Linked DNA regions of Homo sapiens: all the other regions are reported to be linked to region 1. Evidence: microRNA targets listed by miRTarBase, many of them from high-throughput screens and not tested one by one. Region 1 holds a microRNA gene; each other region holds the end of a gene's coding sequence.
Evidence for each region. The annotated mature microRNA hsa-miR-484 reads UCAGGCUCAGUCCCCUCCCGAU and lies in region 1 at 842-863, opposite strand. An mRNA with a match to its seed (bases 2 to 7 or 8) in the 3' UTR can be bound and repressed. Matches are read on the target gene's strand: a 7mer-m8 pairs with bases 2 to 8, a 7mer-A1 pairs with bases 2 to 7 and ends in A, and an 8mer does both.

Region 1 (3,103 bases):
GCTAGCACATCCTAAATCGTGTCTAGATTTAACTTACACAATATGTGCTTTGCTTTTTTCCTAATTTGCAACAGAAAATAGTAATCAGCTGGTAGTTTCAGAAATCACCCTTTTGCTGAGTCTTAAATTTTTTTTTATTCCAGGGAAACGTGAAGATTGTGGGGCGCTATTTTTTTTTTTAAAGCAAACCACACAGCATATCTGGCCACCTAAAACACAAAGTGTTTGAAACTAACCGTAAGATTTCCTTTCTGCTCGCCCAACCTGTCACTGGAAACGCAGTATTCATTTGTAACCAGCTTTGGAGCAGGGCTTTTAAAAATAACGTTTTCTTGCTAAAGTCCCCAAAAATCTCTTGATTCTTGGTGGCAATGTCCAGTTGAGTCTTTGCACACACTGTATTTTTGCCAACTGGGTCGCAACTTTGCGAGAACTCCGGGGGACCTCGTAGGAAGCCAGGTTGGCAGTTATTTTTTTCTCCACTTGCCACTAGGTTGCACTAGATTTAGGATGCTGGGGAATATGCGCCATTTAATTTTTAAAAATAAAGTAGGACCATCACGTGACGAGACCCGAGAGAGGAAAAAAAAAAAGCCGAAGGGACAGGGTTTTTCATTGAAATCCCGTTCAAATCGCCTTCCCTCCAAAGCCTGAAAGAGCTGAATTCTATTAAATCCTGGTTGGCAGGTTTTTTCCTCGGGTCCACGTCACGAGCTCATTCTCCGCTTCAAGGTTCCTTTCGACTCCACAACGTGAAGCCAGGGGGAAGGCCTCCTTAAACTGGGGGTTTTCGCCAAAAAAGCCAGGGTCACCCCCCGGGAAAGTCCCTATTTAGGGGTTTATCGGGAGGGGACTGAGCCTGACGAGGCTGCAGGGCCGCGAGGCCCCGCCCCCCCCGGGGTTCCCAGCATGCCCCGCGCGGACAGGACGCGGCGGCGGAGGCGGGGCGAGGAAGGGGCGGGGCGAAGAGGAGAGAAGGGCGTCGGTTTTGCGACAGGGGCGGTGCGGTGCGGAAGCGGAAGTGAAGGGTGCGCTTGGCGGCGGCGGCGGGAGCTGCGGAGTCGGGAATCAAAACAAAGGGCCTGGGGGGGGCGGGGGGAAGGCGGCGGGGCCGGAATGTGAGCGGAGGTGGAGCCGGCGGCAGAGGTGAGTTTGCAGACAGTCCTGCGACCAGACCCCGGCAGGCTCTGCTCCGAGGCCAGCGGGGCGGGACGGAGGACAGTGTCCCCTCTTTCCCCGCCTATTGCTGGTGGGATGGTGGTGGAGAGGGGAGGTTAGCTAACTGGGACGCGCCAGTTGGGCCCCCCACGAAAGAGTTGGCTTGTCTCCCTTTCGGGTCCATTCACTACTGTCACTGTTGGCGCCGCTGTTCCCCTTCGAGGGCATTTGGCTCCCCGCCCGCCCCTGTCTGACCCCTGGTGGGGCCCTCCAGGAGTGAAGTGCACAGCTGGAAGGTTAAGAGAGAAGGAAAGGGGCGGGTGTTTTTGCAACACACTCCCCCCTCCCCGGCCGTTTTGCATTCTCCTCGGCCTTTTAGCAACACATAGGGTGTAGTCTCAGGGTTGACAATGTCTAGGGCTTCAGCCACTCTCACTAGTAGTTGTAACGCGACCTCGTGATACACCTTTTAGAGTTTCTCAAGCACCTTTCCGGTATTACCAAGAGCTGTCCAATTGCATTTGTGTCTTTTGGACTTCTCTGAGCGGTAAATATTCTTCTCTTTTGCATATCGGTGTATTGAAACCTAAACTGTTTTCCTATTTATTAAGCTTTATTCGTTCAACAGTTATTTATTAAAATATGCCAGGCATTGTACTAAGGACAGGAGTTGGAATAGTGGATAAGAAAACATAGTCTCTGCTGTCATGGAGTTTATAGCCTAATGGGGGAGAAAGATAATAAAATAAGCTAAAAAGGCCGTTTTGGACAGAAGAGCTATGGGGGAGAAAACGGTAATGGGATGGGGTGGTGTGGGGTCAAAGACTAGATTGGGTGCTAAGGAAACAACATTTGCTAAATGTTCCCCGTGGATTACCTCATGTAATCCAAACAACGGCCTTGTAAGGTGGTTTCTATTATTATCACACCCATTTTAGAGATGGGATCTGAGGTTCAGAGAGGTTGTGAGTTGTCCAAAGCTGCACCGCAGTCAAATTGGAGACCAAAATGCAGACAGTCGACAGAGCCTATGCTCTCCTCATTGAATTGGTCAAAAGACTTGAAGAGAGTGACAGAAAGGAGACTGTCGCTCAAGTCAAACAGAACCTGCTTTTGGCTACCTAAGTTGCTTCGTGGATGGTATTTGGGAAGTTTTCAGGGTGCAGGCACCTGAAAGTTTTTACTTTTAATCGCTTGTATTGAGCAGTATTGAAGGCACCTTGATGTAGTGGAAAGGGGTGAACAAGCCTAATCTTGTGTCAGGCTCGCTACAAAACTTCATTAAGTTTCTTTTTCTCTCTCTGCAAAAATGTAGCTAATTTCTCCCCTGTCTATTTCACAGGATTATTGCAAAAATTATATAAGAGGATCCCACCGTCTGGGTTTTTTTCATCATTATATTCCTTGTGCCAAGCACAGGCCTGCTGCATAGTAGATACTAAGTAAATATTTGCTGAATGAAGACATAAGTAATGTTAAGTGAAAATACTTTATAAACTAGATTATACTGTGAATGTTAGCTCACTTTCAGGATTTGGCTTTGAAGAAGTTTGAGAGAATGTTTAAGTTATGAACACTGTGAATATCACAGATTCTTACGATTTTGAGAGGAGTTTTTTGGGGGACATAAAACCTGTATCTAATAGGAAAGACAAGAATCGTAATTTACTATCAGTGGTAGCAGTTAAATCCATCTCCAAATTAACCACTCCCAATAGTGTGTAGTAGGTAATGTTTACTTTGTATTTACAGAGTAGGGAGCATTTTGGTTGGCACAAGAGATACAGTGGTGAAAATAGACAGTGGGGTTCATTTATCTAATTTTTTTTTTCTCTGTAATGCAGTGGCGGGGAGAAATTAGCCACATTTTGCATAGGAGGAAACAGAAACTTGAAAACAAAAATTTTTTTAGAGATGGAATCTCACTCTGTTGCCCACGCTGAAG
Region 2 (3,103 bases), not on the chromosome of region 1:
CCCTCCAGAGTTGTGCTCCTCTGTTAGGCACACTTGTGGCTTCCATGGTTGTTGAACTTCTCTTTTACTGACTATTAGTTTTAAGAACACAGTTTGCCAGGATCTCAGACGTTTGTCCCAGAATTGAATCCTAGCTCTCCTAATGGCTGATATGATGTGGAAATTGGGCATAGTACTAGTGTCTCCAAGCCACGGTTTTCTGGTACTTAATAATATATAGTAAATGTTTAATACATTATAGCTGTCATCCTTCTCCTCTTCTTAATTATTTCTGTGTTTCCAGCATCGCTTCTTAGCTTTCATTTCTAAGTGCAAATACAAACCAATCATGACTAAGATGGTTTTTCCTGTGTCTTCCTCCCACCTTTTCCAGCTTTGCCAAAGTCATGCATGAGACAGTGAAGGACCTGGCTCCGAAATGTGATGTGTCTTTCCTGCAGTCAGAGGATGGCAGCGGGAAGGGGGCGGCGCTCATCACTGCTGTGGCCTGCCGCATCCGTGAGGCTGGACAGCGATAGAACCCCTGAAATCGGAAGGGACTTCCTCTTTCTCTCCTTCTTCCCTGTTTTAAATTATAAGATGTCATCCCCTTGTGTCAGAGACAGACCCCTTGGCTTTTGCTTGGCAGAGAGGACCCCACTGGACTGGGTTTTGTCTCTGCATCTCATTGTAGAGCTTGGTGGCTGAGCTTGGCCCTATTAAGATAAATAGAGTTCCAAATAAGGATTTGTTCACATGCATCATAACCATTCCCATTGGTTCTCCTAAAACATGAAAATTATCTCCCTTAGTAATCCCCCTTGCCAAATTCCATGTCCCTGTATAATTCTACAGGATGGGGACACTAATGAAGATACGGTTGCTTCACCTTGGAGCCTGAACATGACATTTCTAAGTGGGGTGCATCCCCCAGCACTGATGTTGTTACTGATTCTCCTGTCAGAGATCTGGGAGGTCTCCACTGAGGATGTGAGCCTGATTATCCTATAGGCAGACGTGGGGAGGGTGGAGGGGTGACAGTGGAGGAAAATCCATGGATATCCACGCAGCAGCCCCTCTTTAACCTCATCTACAAGCATTTGCCCTGTGGATTCCAGCATTTGCCATTCCTGGAATCAAGGAATCCTGAGTCTGGGCAATGAAACCAAAGCCAGGAGTTGACGCATCCTGCAGTTGGGCCAGCTGTCGCATCTCAGCGGGGCGCACATGTTATCCACAAGCAATGGACCTTTGGGGAAGGGGGAGTTTTTAGTTTGTTTTACAAATTTTTCCTGCAAAAGTGGAATCACTGTATTTTCATTTTAATTTATATTTGAAATTTTATTTAGTTCTTGAGTAGATCTGCTTCTTCATCTTGACATGTAATGAATGGTCAGTTGTACGTAATGTATTTATATGTTAATTTGTTATGTATATAGATGTGCAAGTCTTGTCAGAATTGGCCTCAGTGTAGTTAAAGGGCAGAAGGGGAAGATACTGACTAGTCATAGAAATACCTCATTCGCCTGTGGGAAGAGAAGGGAAGCCTCTTCAGGGTGAGTGAATGGCAAAGCGGTTGCTTCTGGCTCCTCCTTCCCCTGTGGTCTTGGAAGTGTGTGGAAGGCAGGGACAGAGATGGAGGCCGAGCCAATAGACTGAAGAGACCACAGCAATTGGCTCCTCCATCTAGAGATTTTCTTGGCAGTATTCCATGGGATGTTAAGCAAAGGAAACCAAAGGAATCGTTTCAAATGGACTCATGGCTTAGAAATCTTTATTCTTAGGGCAGTCAGTAGTATTCTAAAGCTTTCTGACAAGATAAAGGAAGTCACCAAAATTTCTTTTTTTAAATTGTATCTAATCCTCAACAACAAACCAAAACAGAACAATTAAACAGCCAAATAAAACCTCAGGGACAACATTTTTGGTGTATTTGAGCCCTCCCAGCAAGTTTCACCTTGGGTTTGTATTTTAAATGTTTTACAAGAATTGTCCATGTGCTTCCCTAGGCTGAGCTGGCATTGGTCTGCTGACCTGTTTTTGTGTTTTTCTTTTTTTTATACACAACATTTATTTCAAACTATTGGGAGGGATGAGAGTGGCTTAAAAACTTCCATCCCTACTTTTCAAGAGTGCAGTTGATTCTGAATCTGAAAGCCCGCCTCTGTCCTAAAATACAAACAAGCACAGACATTAAACCTGGATACTATATGATAAAGAGGGATGTAACTATTGAATTGGATACAAGGATCAGAATGGAAAGAAACTCACGATGAAATTGAACCTGGTTTTTGTATATTTATCAAACTTGTGCTGAGAATAGTGTCTGATTATACGACTTTTAAGCAAAGTTGGGTGTAATTAGGTGAAAACAGCCCAGGTCCTCCCGGGAGCACAGAGGGGCTAGGGGCTGGTCCTTCTCGTTTGCTCTAGTCTTGCTTTGCTGTCTGGTGTAGCTCCTCTGCTGCTCCCATCTGCACTAATTGACCCAAAACGTGGGTATTTCCTGCTACACAAAAGCCAAAAGGTTTCATGTAGATTTTAGTTCACTAAAGGGTGCCCACAAAATAGAGATTAATTTTAACTTAAATTTTAAGCTTGAAGATTAGGTACTATCTGTGAAGTTACACTTTTTTTTTTTTTTTTAAAGGTAGAGATGTGTGTGTGTGTAGGTATTAAAGATGTGTTGTTGGTTTCCAAAAAGGAACACTGGAAAATAAATTTTGAATGTTTATGTTCTCAGAATCAGGTTGACAGTCCCTTGCTGACATGGCTTTGCTTTGTGTAAATACAGTGGATCTCAATCTTCGGGGTGTGATGAATAGCGAATCATCTCAAATCCTTGAGCACTCAGTCTAGTGAAGATGTTGTCATTATGTACAATACATAACTAGTTTAATTAACTATGTGATGTTAACTATTATTAATAAATTTTAACATTTTCCAAAATAATCAAATGTGATTCATGAGTGTTTTTAAGAGAGTAGTCATCTTCCGGTCGTATCAGTACTTCCTGGCCAGCCCGATGAGTAATTTATGGGTGTCTTGATTTTGAGTGTGTGTGTTTGAGAGGCATGTGGCTTTTCCAGAAACTCAGTCCCAGTGGAATTAGAAGGCAGCTTTT
Region 3 (3,103 bases), not on the chromosome of region 1:
TTCCATAGCAGTAATGACAAGGCACTGCTGCAATAAGGATATATTGTTTTGTATGCCTGGGCTAAAGGATTGGATGAGCTATAGAGCTTCCTGGTACATTTAAAGGTTAACTTTTCCCCCTAACCGGTTGAAATAGGGAAAACTCGCTAATCACAATCATCACAAAGCAAATATAAACAAAATTCCTAGTTCCCTTGCCCATGCAGCTAAAAGAGTTAAGACACCAGAATAGCTAGGTGCTTTTCAGTTTCAGTTGAGGAAAGGATGCTATTCTTAACCATAAATACTCTCATTTTGTCTTTCTTTTTTTAAAGGGCTTACCTGTTGCTTTAGACAAACATATTCTTGGTTTTGACACAGGAGGTAAGTGATTTTGTTTAAATTCAAACTATTTTTTTTACAGACTGAATACTTGGGAGGAAATAAATGGCCTTAAATGTAAAAATTATGTATTGAAGCAGTGTTCTTTTCTCATAAAACAGATGCAGTTCTTAATGAAGCTGCTCAAATTCTGCGATTGCTGCACATAGAGGAGCTCAGAGAGCTACAGACAAAAATCAACGAAGCCATAGTAGCTGTTCAGGCAATTATTGCTGATCCAAAGACAGACCACAGACTGGGAAAAGTTGGAAGATGAACACTTGAGGACTTCAGCTTCTCACCTACTTAGTACAGTTGGGAACCATACACTTCTGGCATGTTTGGAAATCAAAATGTCACATTCTCGGGGGAGGAAGCCCAGAAAATTGGGTATGTTCTAGAGATTTACCACCATTGCTTATTGCTTTTTTCTTTAATAAAGTTTAGGAAAGTAGAATTTTTATTATGTACTGTATGTTTGCATAAATCACCTTTCTCCTTTGTGGTTAAGGCATATATGCCAACCCCCAGCTTTGTCCTAGAGACAATATAGATCCTTAAGTCATAGGAAAACTTAAAACACTTTATTGGAGTAATCTAGAAAATTTTAAAATTGTTACATCTTTGGTATTTATAAATGTGATACTTTACTTTCTGTGGGTACTTCTATAGAGGCACTACAGGATCAGAAAATGCAAATTGAATCATTTTAGCACCTTTTGATATAAATAGAAATGCACTGATGCAGAGGTAAAAAATCTTAGAACTTTTGTTGGGAAACTATAAATAATTGGTCCTTTCCCATCAGTTCTGCATTGGCTTCTCCAACTGTCAAGGTTTAGGATTATATTGTTATATTGATCACATGTGCTTTAATTTCTTGGCCAGAAGGAATCCATGGCAAAAATCAGGTTTAGAGTCTTAAACTCTAATTCTTAGTTGAATGAATTTGATCTTTTAAATATTAATGATAAATGTTTACAAGAAGTTGCTTTAATAAGCAACAGTTAAAATTCTGTTACCTTTTTAAACTTGCAATAACAACCTTCATTTTTAAAAATACAGTAGTAAAGATTGAGGTATCAGCTTTTCACAAAAGTCTTTTTGCACTACAAAATGTTCATCTTGGATGCTCAGGAACGTCTAATGGCCAATTCCTTTTTTACTTTCTTTGCCTTTGCAGTCACTGTTCTTTAGGGTCCAGGTTCTGATTGTAAACTCCAAGTCTTCCTTTACATTACTGTACTTACTTTCTTCCTGTGAGAGAAGAGCAGGGGTGGGACAGGGTGGTGGGTGAGTATATTGTAACCAAGTTGCAACAGCAAGTCTTTGCATTTTGTGTATAAACTAGGTAGATTTAAGGTAGTAAAGACTGGCCCTCAGGGCAGGAAGAAGGCAATGGTGGCAGTGTCACAGGCAGCAGGGGTAATCAAATACCATATATATCCCTTCTCTACCCTGCTAATTTAAAGGAGCATCCTAAAGCATACTTTTTACCTGTTGGGCAGTAGGGGTAGACTGCAGTTATCCCGTAGAGGTGAGATCGTTGTTCTGGGAGATACTCATCAGTAAACTGGCCACTATGTTTATTTACTGATACAACACCATCCCTGGTAACAGAAAGGAAGAGTGAATTCAGGGACAGTCATTTACTAGATAAAGAAGTCAGTCAGCCACAGAAAATCAGTTGCAATAGAGGAAAATTTCTGGCAGCCTTCTCTGTCCCAGGGCTGGTGCTAAAGCCATACTGAAGTTTGAAGACCATTGCTCTAAATCCATTGCTCATCTCTAGCTGCATGTTAGAATCACATGATGAGCTATCAAATCAGAGTTGTAGGGCATGGTGTAAAGGGCTTAGACTTTAATGTTCCACAGTTCCTCATTTGAGAACTAGTCTAAATAGTATTTTTCGGTCCCTCAGACAATATGTCCACAGTGTCAAAAGCCAACTTAAGCCCTGTAATATAGCTCATGGTATCAAGGGTAGTCTTATTCTCTAAAGAACATATTTAGATTAATATGCTCCCTTTTGAGACATTATCCAATAGCTTTGCTACTTTTTAAGCTATATGTGAGCAATACCATTCGATTTCTGGGTGAAGTAAAAGGATGATTTCAAAAACATGAAAGGATGAAAAACATCCTTGAAGGATCTTATCTGCCAATGAGGAGGTGATGAAACAAAAGCCTCAGAGGGCTTAATGAGTCAAGTCAGGTACTGACTTTTGGTAAAACAAGTGGTGTGTCCTCTGGAACAGTTGGCCTTTTCAGGCTTGTCCAGAATTTGTGGGGCTCACCTCCTCCAGTCTGTGTGGTAGAAGTGATCTGCATAGCTTACGATGCTGAAGGGGTACTTGAGGTTGTTTTGAATGACACGCCGTCCAGTTCCATCAGGTAGTGTACACTCCAGTTTTTTGGTTCCTTTTAAAACAAAGGGGGAAAATGAGGTCCTTCAGCTGCTTTGCCAAAAATGATAGTGACATAGTGATAGTGACACAGTGATAGAATGGGGAAATAGGATATTTTACTTCCATTACAGTCATAGATTAGCAACTGTAAAATTACCTGTCCTATTACTAGTCTCCAGTTTTTAGTAGAGATTCAAACTTTCAATCCTTTTTTGGAAGACAGGATTGCATTTACTGAAATCTGGTAAGTTTCTGCCAAAGTAGGGCATTAAACATAATTATTTTTATAATTTGTGTGATTTCAAGCCTTAGCTTATAAATTATAACATCTGGGT
Region 4 (3,103 bases), not on the chromosome of region 1:
TGTGTTTCGGGTCACTCACAGGGCTCAGCACCACTCCTCATGGCTTCCTTACTGTTTCGGCAGAGGCTGACCCGCGGCTGATTGAGTCCCTCTCCCAGATGCTGTCCATGGGCTTCTCTGATGAAGGCGGCTGGCTCACCAGGCTCCTGCAGACCAAGAACTATGACATCGGAGCGGCTCTGGACACCATCCAGTATTCAAAGCATCCCCCGCCGTTGTGACCACTTTTGCCCACCTCTTCTGCGTGCCCCTCTTCTGTCTCATAGTTGTGTTAAGCTTGCGTAGAATTGCAGGTCTCTGTACGGGCCAGTTTCTCTGCCTTCTTCCAGGATCAGGGGTTAGGGTGCAAGAAGCCATTTAGGGCAGCAAAACAAGTGACATGAAGGGAGGGTCCCTGTGTGTGTGTGTGCTGATGTTTCCTGGGTGCCCTGGCTCCTTGCAGCAGGGCTGGGCCTGCGAGACCCAAGGCTCACTGCAGCGCGCTCCTGACCCCTCCCTGCAGGGGCTACGTTAGCAGCCCAGCACATAGCTTGCCTAATGGCTTTCACTTTCTCTTTTGTTTTAAATGACTCATAGGTCCCTGACATTTAGTTGATTATTTTCTGCTACAGACCTGGTACACTCTGATTTTAGATAAAGTAAGCCTAGGTGTTGTCAGCAGGCAGGCTGGGGAGGCCAGTGTTGTGGGCTTCCTGCTGGGACTGAGAAGGCTCACGAAGGGCATCCGCAATGTTGGTTTCACTGAGAGCTGCCTCCTGGTCTCTTCACCACTGTAGTTCTCTCATTTCCAAACCATCAGCTGCTTTTAAAATAAGATCTCTTTGTAGCCATCCTGTTAAATTTGTAAACAATCTAATTAAATGGCATCAGCACTTTAACCAATGACGTTTGCATAGAGAGAAATGATTGACAGTAAGTTTATTGTTAATGGTTCTTACAGAGTATCTTTAAAAGTGCCTTAGGGGAACCCTGTCCCTCCTAACAAGTGTATCTCGATTAATAACCTGCCAGTCCCAGATCACACATCATCATCGAAGTCTTCCCCAGTTATAAAGAGGTCACATAGTCGTGTGGGTCGAGGATTCTGTGCCTCCAGGACCAGGGGCCCACCCTCTGCCCAGGGAGTCCTTGCGTCCCATGAGGTCTTCCCGCAAGGCCTCTCAGACCCAGATGTGACGGGGTGTGTGGCCCGAGGAAGCTGGACAGCGGCAGTGGGCCTGCTGAGGCCTTCTCTTGAGGCCTGTGCTCTGGGGGTCCCTTGCTTAGCCTGTGCTGGACCAGCTGGCCTGGGGTCCCTCTGAAGAGACCTTGGCTGCTCACTGTCCACATGTGAACTTTTTCTAGGTGGCAGGACAAATTGCGCCCATTTAGAGGATGTGGCTGTAACCTGCTGGATGGGACTCCATAGCTCCTTCCCAGGACCCCTCAGCTCCCCGGCACTGCAGTCTGCAGAGTTCTCCTGGAGGCAGGGGCTGCTGCCTTGTTTCACCTTCCATGTCAGGCCAGCCTGTCCCTGAAAGAGAAGATGGCCATGCCCTCCATGTGTAAGAACAATGCCAGGGCCCAGGAGGACCGCCTGCCCTGCCTGGGCCTTGGCTGGGCCTCTGGTTCTGACACTTTCTGCTGGAAGCTGTCAGGCTGGGACAGGCTTTGATTTTGAGGGTTAGCAAGACAAAGCAAATAAATGCCTTCCACCTCACCGCAAACCTTCTGCTAAATTGCATGACCAGGCTTTCCAAAAACAAGACATTCTCATGTCATCAGGTGATCCATCTCCTGGGGACCTTAGAATCAGGTTACCGGTGCCTACAAAAGAATTTTGAGCAGAAGGGCCTCGAGACATCGGGAAAGGGGTGCGCTGGCTCCATTCTGCTACCTCCCACCGGGGGGCAGCTCTCCAGAGCCTGCCGGGTTCTGCAGCTGCAGAGGTGGCAGCACCGAGCTCCCTGTGGGATAGGACTGGTGCTGGGGTCTGGCTTCTCTCACCCCAGGAACCAAAGATGCTCTGAAAGTTGGGTGTCGGCCGGGCGCAGTGGCTCACGCCTGTAATCCCAGCACTTTGGGAGGCCAAGGCAGGTAGATCACCTGAGGCCAGGAGTTCGAGATCAACCTGGCCAACATGGCGAAACCCTATCACTACTAAAAATACAAAAATTAACCTGGCGTGGTGGCACGCGCCTGTAATCTCAGCTACTCGGGAGGCTGAGGCAGGAGAATCACTTGAACCTGGGAGGCAGAGGTTGCAGTGAGCCGAAATCACGCCATTCCACTCCAGCCTAGGCAACAGAGCGAACTCTGTCTCAAAAAAAAGAAAGTTGGGTTGTAGGCTGGGAGCAGTGGCTCATGCCTGAATCCCAGCACTTTGGGAGGCTGAGGCAGGCAGATTGCTTGAGCCCAGGAGTTTGACACCAGTTTGGGCAACATGGTGAAACCCCCTCTTCTACAAAAAATTAGCCAACTGTGGTGGTGAGTGCCTGTGATCCCAGCTGCTCGGGAGGATCACTTAAGCCCGGGAGATGGAGGCTGCTATGAGGTGTGATTGTACCATTGCACTCCAGCCTAGGTGACAGAGTGACACCCCATCTCAAAAACAAAAGGCTGGGTGCAGTGGCTCATGCCTGTAATCCCAGTACTTTGGGAGGCCGAGGCGGGTGGATCACTTGAGGTCAGGAGTTCAAGACCAGCCTGGCCAACATGGGGAAGCCCTGTCTCTACTAAAAATACAAAAATTAGCCAGGCGTGGTGGCGGGTGCCTGTAATCCCAGCTACTCAGGAGGCTGAGGCAGGAGAATCGCTTGAACCTGGGAGGCGGAGGTTGCAGTGAGCCAAGATCGTGCCATTACACTCCAGCCAGGGGAACAAGAGTGAAACTCCTACTCAAAAAAAAAAAAAAAACAACAGTTGGGTTGTGCTGCTTACAAAGGGAAAAGCAATGTGAAAGCAGCGATAGAGTGGGTCCCTGCAGCACTGCCACCCAGGCAGTACAGAAGAGGCTCTGCGGCCCTGAAACTTGACGTTGGCTTTGCCACTGAACTTGCCATGACTGCACAAAAACTGCAAGCCTCAGTTCCTCACCTTTAAAACAAAGCAACAGGCTTGAGGG
Region 5 (3,103 bases), not on the chromosome of region 1:
TCTCAGCTGAGACCTCCCAAGCCATCAAGGTAAGAACTGCTTCCTCTGAGGCCCTTCTCACATGTGTGATCACTGCTTCCTTTCTCCCTCAGCTGGGTGCCCGTGGGCTGTACCTGGACCAAGGGAAGGGACTGGATCTGTCTTGCTCCCTGTGGTAGCTCTGGACACAGAACACAGCCTGGCACATGGCAATGTTTACTGGGCTCTGTTCTCCAGCTCCCATCTGAGTCTGCAGGCCAGCCCCAAACCAGCCCGGGAACCCCTTACTTAGCTGTGCCAGCCGTTTCTCCAAAAAGCTGTTTCCCGACTTCCTTCCTTCCAGCCACTGGCTGTCCTTTGTTCCCAGTGACCAGGACACCCAGCAGCCTTTGTACTTCCACCCTCAGGCCCTACTACCCCTGCTCCACACCACTGTCCACCAGCCCCGCACCCAGTCTGTCTTCCAGGCCCGCACAGGTCTGGTGATAGGTGGCAAGTGTCCCTGCTCTCATCCCACACGCTGCTGGGGCTCTCTTTCCTCTCCAGTCTGAGCGGCTGAGGTCCCAGCACACCTAAGTAGGAACACTAGGAGCCGCCCAAGAGCAACAGGAAACCACCATCACCCCTTCCCCTCCGAGTGGGATAAGAAACTAAAAAGTGGAGGATCCCAAAGGTATATGCCTATGGGAGCCAGGCAGGTATCAGAGAAGCACAGTCGCCAGGTGGACTGGCGCAAGTGTCCTGTATGTGGACACCTGTGCGGGGAGGGGCTGACAAGCTGGAGCTTGCAGGCTCCATCCAAAGGGACGAGCTGCTATTCAGTGTCAGCTGACTGCTGCCGTTCAGGAATCAGGCCCGCCGTGGACAGCTCTAGTTTTCTCTTTCAGGAGAATCCAGAATCCAAAACCAAGATTTTTATATAAAATCTGTCTTCAAATGTTGGCAACTTACTCAATTTTTAAAAAAACACTACAGATCACAAGTTTGCAACCTCTGGGAAGGAGAAGCCTCCTTCCCATCTTAGAGGCATCCCTGTAACTGCCCACATCATCCTCTTACCTATAGGATCCCATTCAGAACGGCATAGAGTTCTAGAATCTTCTTTCCCTTTTTCCCAATCAAAATCCCAATTTCTTCACTGTAGTAAGGTCCAGCTAGTTGGGAAGCAATCTGATTAAAATAAAACAACTTCCAGACCCCCAATTCAATAAATACTATGAGGATTACCATATTTCACAAGTTAACTAAACTTATTATGTTTCAATTAATATTAGGTTGGTGCAAAAGTAATTGCAGTTTTTGCCATTCTAGAACTAGAGGCAATGGGCCAAGGCACATAACCGTAGGTCAATCAGGAAAGATGCCAAGTGCTAAGCTGCGTCAGCATTCAACTCCTTTAATCCTATGAGGTAGGTAGTTATCATCTCTCTTTTACAGAAACACAAAAGGAGGTTTACGGAGGTTAAACTACTTGCCCAAGGTCCCTCACCCTAGTAAGTGGCAACACTAGGTTTGCCTGGAACCAAAGTCTACGCAGTCAACCATGCTATGCAGTATTACTTCTCTCTGTGCTATTATATAACCTCATGTAATGGGCACAACTTCAGAGGGGGCATTCTTGAGATGTGGCCTTCTAGACTAAAGTCACTCAAGTGGTCAGTGCTATGGTTTGAATTTGTGTCCCTTGAAAATTCATGTTGCAACAAATCTCCATGCAAGTCTTTTTTTTTTTTTTTTTTTTTGGAGATGGAGTCTGGCTCTGTGGCCCAGGCTGGAGTGCAATGGCTCACCGCAACCTCCGCCTCCCAAGTTCAAGCTGTTCTCCTGCCTCAGCCTCCCAAGTAGCTGGGATTACAGGCATGCACCACCATGCCCACCCCTTGGCTAATTTTGGTTTTTTAGTAGAGACAGGGTTTCACCATGTTGGCCAGGCTGGTCTCAAAACTCCTGACTTCAAGTGATCCCCCTGCCTCGGCCTTCCAAAGTGCTGGGATTACGGACGTGAGCCTCCATGCCTGGCCCCAAGACAAGAGCCTTGAGCAGAGGTCCTAGCTGCAGTCCACCTGCACATTCCTGTTGTTTAGCTGTGTTCTTGCCAAGTCACACTCAGTATCTAACCTAACACAGAAAGATTCTCAAAAATGGGACTCAGCTCACAGAAAATGTTAAAGGGGATAAAAACCTATCCCCTTGGACCCCTAGAGGTCCAAATGGGGCCTTCAGATACCAACAGGGCTCCTATGCAGACAGCTGGTGCTCACTGCTGGAGAAGAAAAAAGGAAGCTGGCCTTTCCAGGCAGTTCTCAGTTCTGTTAGGAGCAAGGGGCAAGAAGGACCAAGAAAGGCCTGGAGAAATATGCTGGCATCAACAGCATTTCCAACTAAGTCCTCATGTCATATACCCAAGGACCCCACCACCCAAAAGTATGAGAATAAGCTCTCAATCAGGCCTTTGTTCCTATTGTTACCCTCTTTATTCCAAAACAATTACACATTTCAACTTTTCAAAAGCAACATCTGGGTAAGTTAGGAATATTCACAGCTTCTTACACAGTGTCAGAGAAAGAGACTATCTGAGCTCACCAGGTATCTGCTGTGTGTTGGGGAAACTGAAAAACAAGCAAAAGTATAACTACAATCTGGACTTTTTTCTTTTTTAAATAAAGTTTTTTTTTTCCATTTTTCTTCTCATACTGTGAATTGTTCTTGACTCCTTTTCTTGACATTCAGTTTTCAGAATTTCCATCTTTCTTCTGGAACTAATGTGCTGTTCTGAAAGAAAATGGAGACAAACACAGAATTACTGAAGGTTTCAGTTCACAGTTACAGTTCCTAACTGGTGACAACAGAGAGACTAAGGTACTCTCCCGCTCTAAGATCCCATTTATAAGGGAATAATCATTTATCTCCCAAGTCTATTTATGTATGCCCCATCTCATTTTACAAAAGAATGTGAGACAGCTAGTTCATAATTAAGCTGATGACAACTTAAATACAAATAACAAAACAAACTCAATAATAACTAAGAAAGTGGTATGTGACAACATAAGGAGATGAGGTAATTCCAGGCACACCTCTCACAGTGCAAGGCCAAAAACACAGTGTAAATTTCAATTAGATGAAC
Region 6 (3,103 bases), not on the chromosome of region 1:
CATTCTTATCAGTGTAACAGTAATATATATTGATGTTATTTCTAGTCTTTTAGTTTGGGATAGTGAATTAAAATAACATTTTTGTCTTCCTCTCTACAGAATGAAACATTTTTGTGTCATCGGTTTACTAAGTTTGTGATGAAATACAATTTGATGTCCAAGGATAACCTGATTGTACCAATTTTAGAAGAGGAAGTACAGAATTCAGTTTCTGGGGAAAGTGAAGCATGAAGGGAATCATAGGAAAAATGTACTGATCATATAATTAACATTATGTACTGTATATATCATTTTAGACACATCAATCATGTATCCATATTATAGCTTCTTTGTTTAGTATAGGTTTTTGTATGCTGGGTTTGCCTTTTAAAATGGGAAATACTTTTTAAGTTATTCATAAGCTGTATATTCACCAGTGTGGCACTCATGGTTTTTAAATAAGATTAGTATTATCTGTTTATAATGCCTGTTAATAAAAGAATTTACAGTTTGGTAAAATTGCTGCTAAACAATCATTGGATCACAATCCTCATCAGACAAACCCATCTGTAAAAAAAATGAGGGAGAGCTTGAGGTTTCACACAAGCCATTTACTAAAGAGGTAGAAATGTTTTCTATTGGTTTTACCTTGAGTTTAGATATCCTAAAAAATTCTGTAGTACGTAGTTTTGTCTTACCTGTTAACTTTCCCCAATTGAGATAAAAGTGTTTTAAAATTCTGTTTATAGTTTTTGATATGCATATATAATTATGTGTATATCTAAATACAAATGCAAATGAAGCATTAGTAATACTTAAATAATTTTACTGTGCTACATAAAGTATAACATACTTGGAAAGGATTTACCGTTCTGCAACAACGGACTGGTACATACAGGATGATCACAATGGTAAGGCACATAAATTATTTTCCCACTGGAAACCTGCCCTGTCCACCCCTTCTCATTTCCCTTAACCTTATCTTCAAACTACTTTAGCTGAGAAGCTTTTCACCAGACTGAGTTAGTGGTGGCTTATACCTATTTATATTTGTATTAATTGCTTACAGATTATACCTCATATTAGCAATTACATTACACTACAAGAAAATGTATTTGCATAGGCTCTTGCTTATCTTTGTTTTGCAAAATTGTTCTACTTAGAAAACAGTCCTTAAAATAGTTTGACTCTTCCTGTTAGTAATATATTAATCTTTCATTTAACCAGCTAGGCAGCATTAAATAGAATTGAAGAAATACCATAGTATTTATTTTACACCCCCTCTCCCACGAAGTTTATGTTTGGATTACATGCACGTGTGAGATTATTTGCAATAATTCATAGGTTCCAAGGGTGTTGATGAATAGTCATACATTTTTTTGGACTTTGTTATAATTCATTGTGGTAAGAATGATTGAAATGCAGATTTAACAATCTTATAATCTATTGAATGCCATTTTTGATAAAGCACTGGAGGTCTTATTGCCAAACTGATTGTAATGAGGCAGTAAGGGTGAAAACATTGTACATGTTGTGAAGAAAGTATTTAAATCCAACTTTTGAACAGATTTAACAAACATGAGGAACTTTTTTATTTAGAAGGATAATTTTGAAGATGAAAATGTATTCATCTTAATTGTTTTTTCAAATTTAAGGGAATAATTTATACCATCTTTTCAGACAAGAATGTACAGCAAAAATAAGGGGAACAGTAGTATACTGAGAGTGTGTGTATGTATAGTGTATGCCTTTCCAAGCTTGCCAGTCTTTTTGGCTTTGAACACTGCCCATCAGCTACAGTCATTACTGTTCCCCAACCCACAACTATCTTTTAAGAAGTCTTAGTTCACAGTGAAAGGAATGATGACTTTGAAATTATGGATTTATATTAATGGCACTATAAACCAATGGTAATGGTAATTTTTAAACTTGCTAAATATTGAGAAACTAAACTACTAAGTTAATAAATTATATATAGCAGTGTAGCTGTTCTCTCTAGATGGTGTCTCACAATGGATTTCTGTTGCTTGACTATTTTCTTAGTGAATATTTATACTAAGGTAGTGACTGAGATTTGGTGATCTGGCTGAGTATTTTGAAACACATTTTGAATAATATGGCTTAGTGTTAACGGGGACTTAAATATGATTTTTTTTTCTTACTCATTTCACCTTCCCTGTACTGTATGTTTGGAATTGATCATAAAACATCTCCAAAAGAAAATAATCAGTTTGTAGTCTTGCTTTTGTATTCATGTTGATAATCTTACTAATTGTGAAGTTGATTCACTACTATACTAGGTAAGACCTAAGTGAAACAGTTCCTGTTTTTCCTTAATACTGTTTTCAGAATTTTGAAAATGTACTTATATATACATAAATACTACTAAAAAATTAATGAGCCTGGCAAACCATTGATTTATAAAAGTAAGTGTTCTAAGAGGGGAACAAGACAGTTCTGTGTGATAAGGAAGTTAGGCTCCACTTTTTGTTTGAATTACCCTATGTATATCCGAAGGTAAACTTAGGCTTTTCTTTCCAAAAGATCGTATAGTCAATTCATTCTTTTTCTCCTATCACATCTGGGAAAGTAGCTAACTTTTAACTATTTATGTTCCCATAAGTAACCCTTCTTTTGTGTGTATACATTTCCTTTTCTCTGACTTGAGATGTCAAATTTGGATTTCTAGAACAGTTTCTCAGTTAAATTCTTGATGACTTAACAACTTTTACTATCAGAATACAATTAGAAATCCTTGGTCAGGCACAGGGGCTCACGCCTGTAATCCCAGCACTTTGGGAAGCCAAGGCAGACAGATCACCTGAGGTCAGGAGTTCGAGACCAGCCTGACCAACATGGAGAAACCCTGTCTCTACTAAAAATACAAAAATTAGCCGGGCGTGGTGCTACTCGTGAGGCTGAGGCAGGAGAATCGCTTGAACCCGGGAGGTGGAGGTTGCGGTGAGCTGAGATCGTGCCATTGCACTCCAGCCTGGGTAACGAGCAAAACTCCGTCTCAAAAACTCCGTCTCAAAAAAAAAAAATCCTTGATTACATTGTTAGTAAGGACTGTGTTACGATTATAAACACATTTATTGGTTGATGTCAAATTCACTGTAATAGT

Region 2: the mRNA of HK2 is a reported target of hsa-miR-484. Seed matches in the 3' UTR shown: 8mer at 873-880 and 8mer at 972-979.
Region 3: miRTarBase lists RTRAF as a target of hsa-miR-484. The part of its 3' UTR that is shown has no 7-base or 8-base seed match.
Region 4: miRTarBase lists SQSTM1 as a target of hsa-miR-484. The part of its 3' UTR that is shown has no 7-base or 8-base seed match.
Region 5: miRTarBase lists RPN2 as a target of hsa-miR-484. The part of its 3' UTR that is shown has no 7-base or 8-base seed match.
Region 6: miRTarBase lists MOB4 as a target of hsa-miR-484. Seed matches in the 3' UTR shown: 7mer-m8 at 2,378-2,384 and 7mer-A1 at 2,823-2,829.

The regions. Positions count from the first base shown.
Region 1 is chr16:15,641,061-15,644,163 of GRCh38, reverse strand. MIR484 (microRNA 484) reads right to left here and starts at 870; the gene lies at 792-870. It overlaps MARF1 (meiosis regulator and mRNA stability factor 1), which reads left to right and starts at 1,010. Exons shown (of 27, transcript NM_014647.4): 1 at 1,010-1,146. It also overlaps a transcript of NDE1 not described here.
Region 2 is chr2:74,890,424-74,893,526 of GRCh38, forward strand. It overlaps HK2 (hexokinase 2), which reads left to right. Exons shown (of 18, transcript NM_000189.5): 18 at 374-2,936. The coding sequence ends at 518. Among named protein-coding and RNA genes, the nearest start is that of LINC01291, 17 kb to the right of the region's middle.
Region 3 is chr14:52,003,880-52,006,982 of GRCh38, forward strand. It overlaps RTRAF (RNA transcription, translation and transport factor), which reads left to right. Exons shown (of 8, transcript NM_016039.3): 7 at 315-363; 8 at 483-3,103. The coding sequence ends at 637. It overlaps NID2 (nidogen 2), which reads right to left. Exons shown (of 22, transcript NM_007361.4): 20 at 2,658-2,781; 21 at 1,858-1,970; 22 at 930-1,617. The coding sequence ends at 1,607. Among named protein-coding and RNA genes, the nearest start is that of RTRAF, 16 kb to the left of the region's middle.
Region 4 is chr5:179,836,373-179,839,475 of GRCh38, forward strand. SQSTM1 (sequestosome 1) reads left to right here. Exons shown (of 8, transcript NM_003900.5): 8 at 64-1,706. The coding sequence ends at 221. It overlaps MRNIP (MRN complex interacting protein), which reads right to left. Exons shown (of 7, transcript NM_016175.4): 7 at 904-1,513. The coding sequence ends at 1,019. Among named protein-coding and RNA genes, the nearest start is that of SQSTM1, 17 kb to the left of the region's middle. RefSeq lists enhancers at 397-691, 473-622.
Region 5 is chr20:37,240,951-37,244,053 of GRCh38, reverse strand. It overlaps RPN2 (ribophorin II), which reads right to left. Exons shown (of 17, transcript NM_002951.5): 17 at 2,435-2,751. The coding sequence ends at 2,739. Among named protein-coding and RNA genes, the nearest start is that of GHRH, 19 kb to the left of the region's middle.
Region 6 is chr2:197,550,416-197,553,518 of GRCh38, forward strand. MOB4 (MOB family member 4, phocein) reads left to right here. Exons shown (of 8, transcript NM_015387.5): 8 at 100-3,103. The coding sequence ends at 231. It overlaps HSPE1-MOB4 (HSPE1-MOB4 readthrough), which reads left to right. Exons shown (of 9, transcript NM_001202485.2): 9 at 100-3,103. The coding sequence ends at 231. Among named protein-coding and RNA genes, the nearest start is that of MOB4, 36 kb to the left of the region's middle.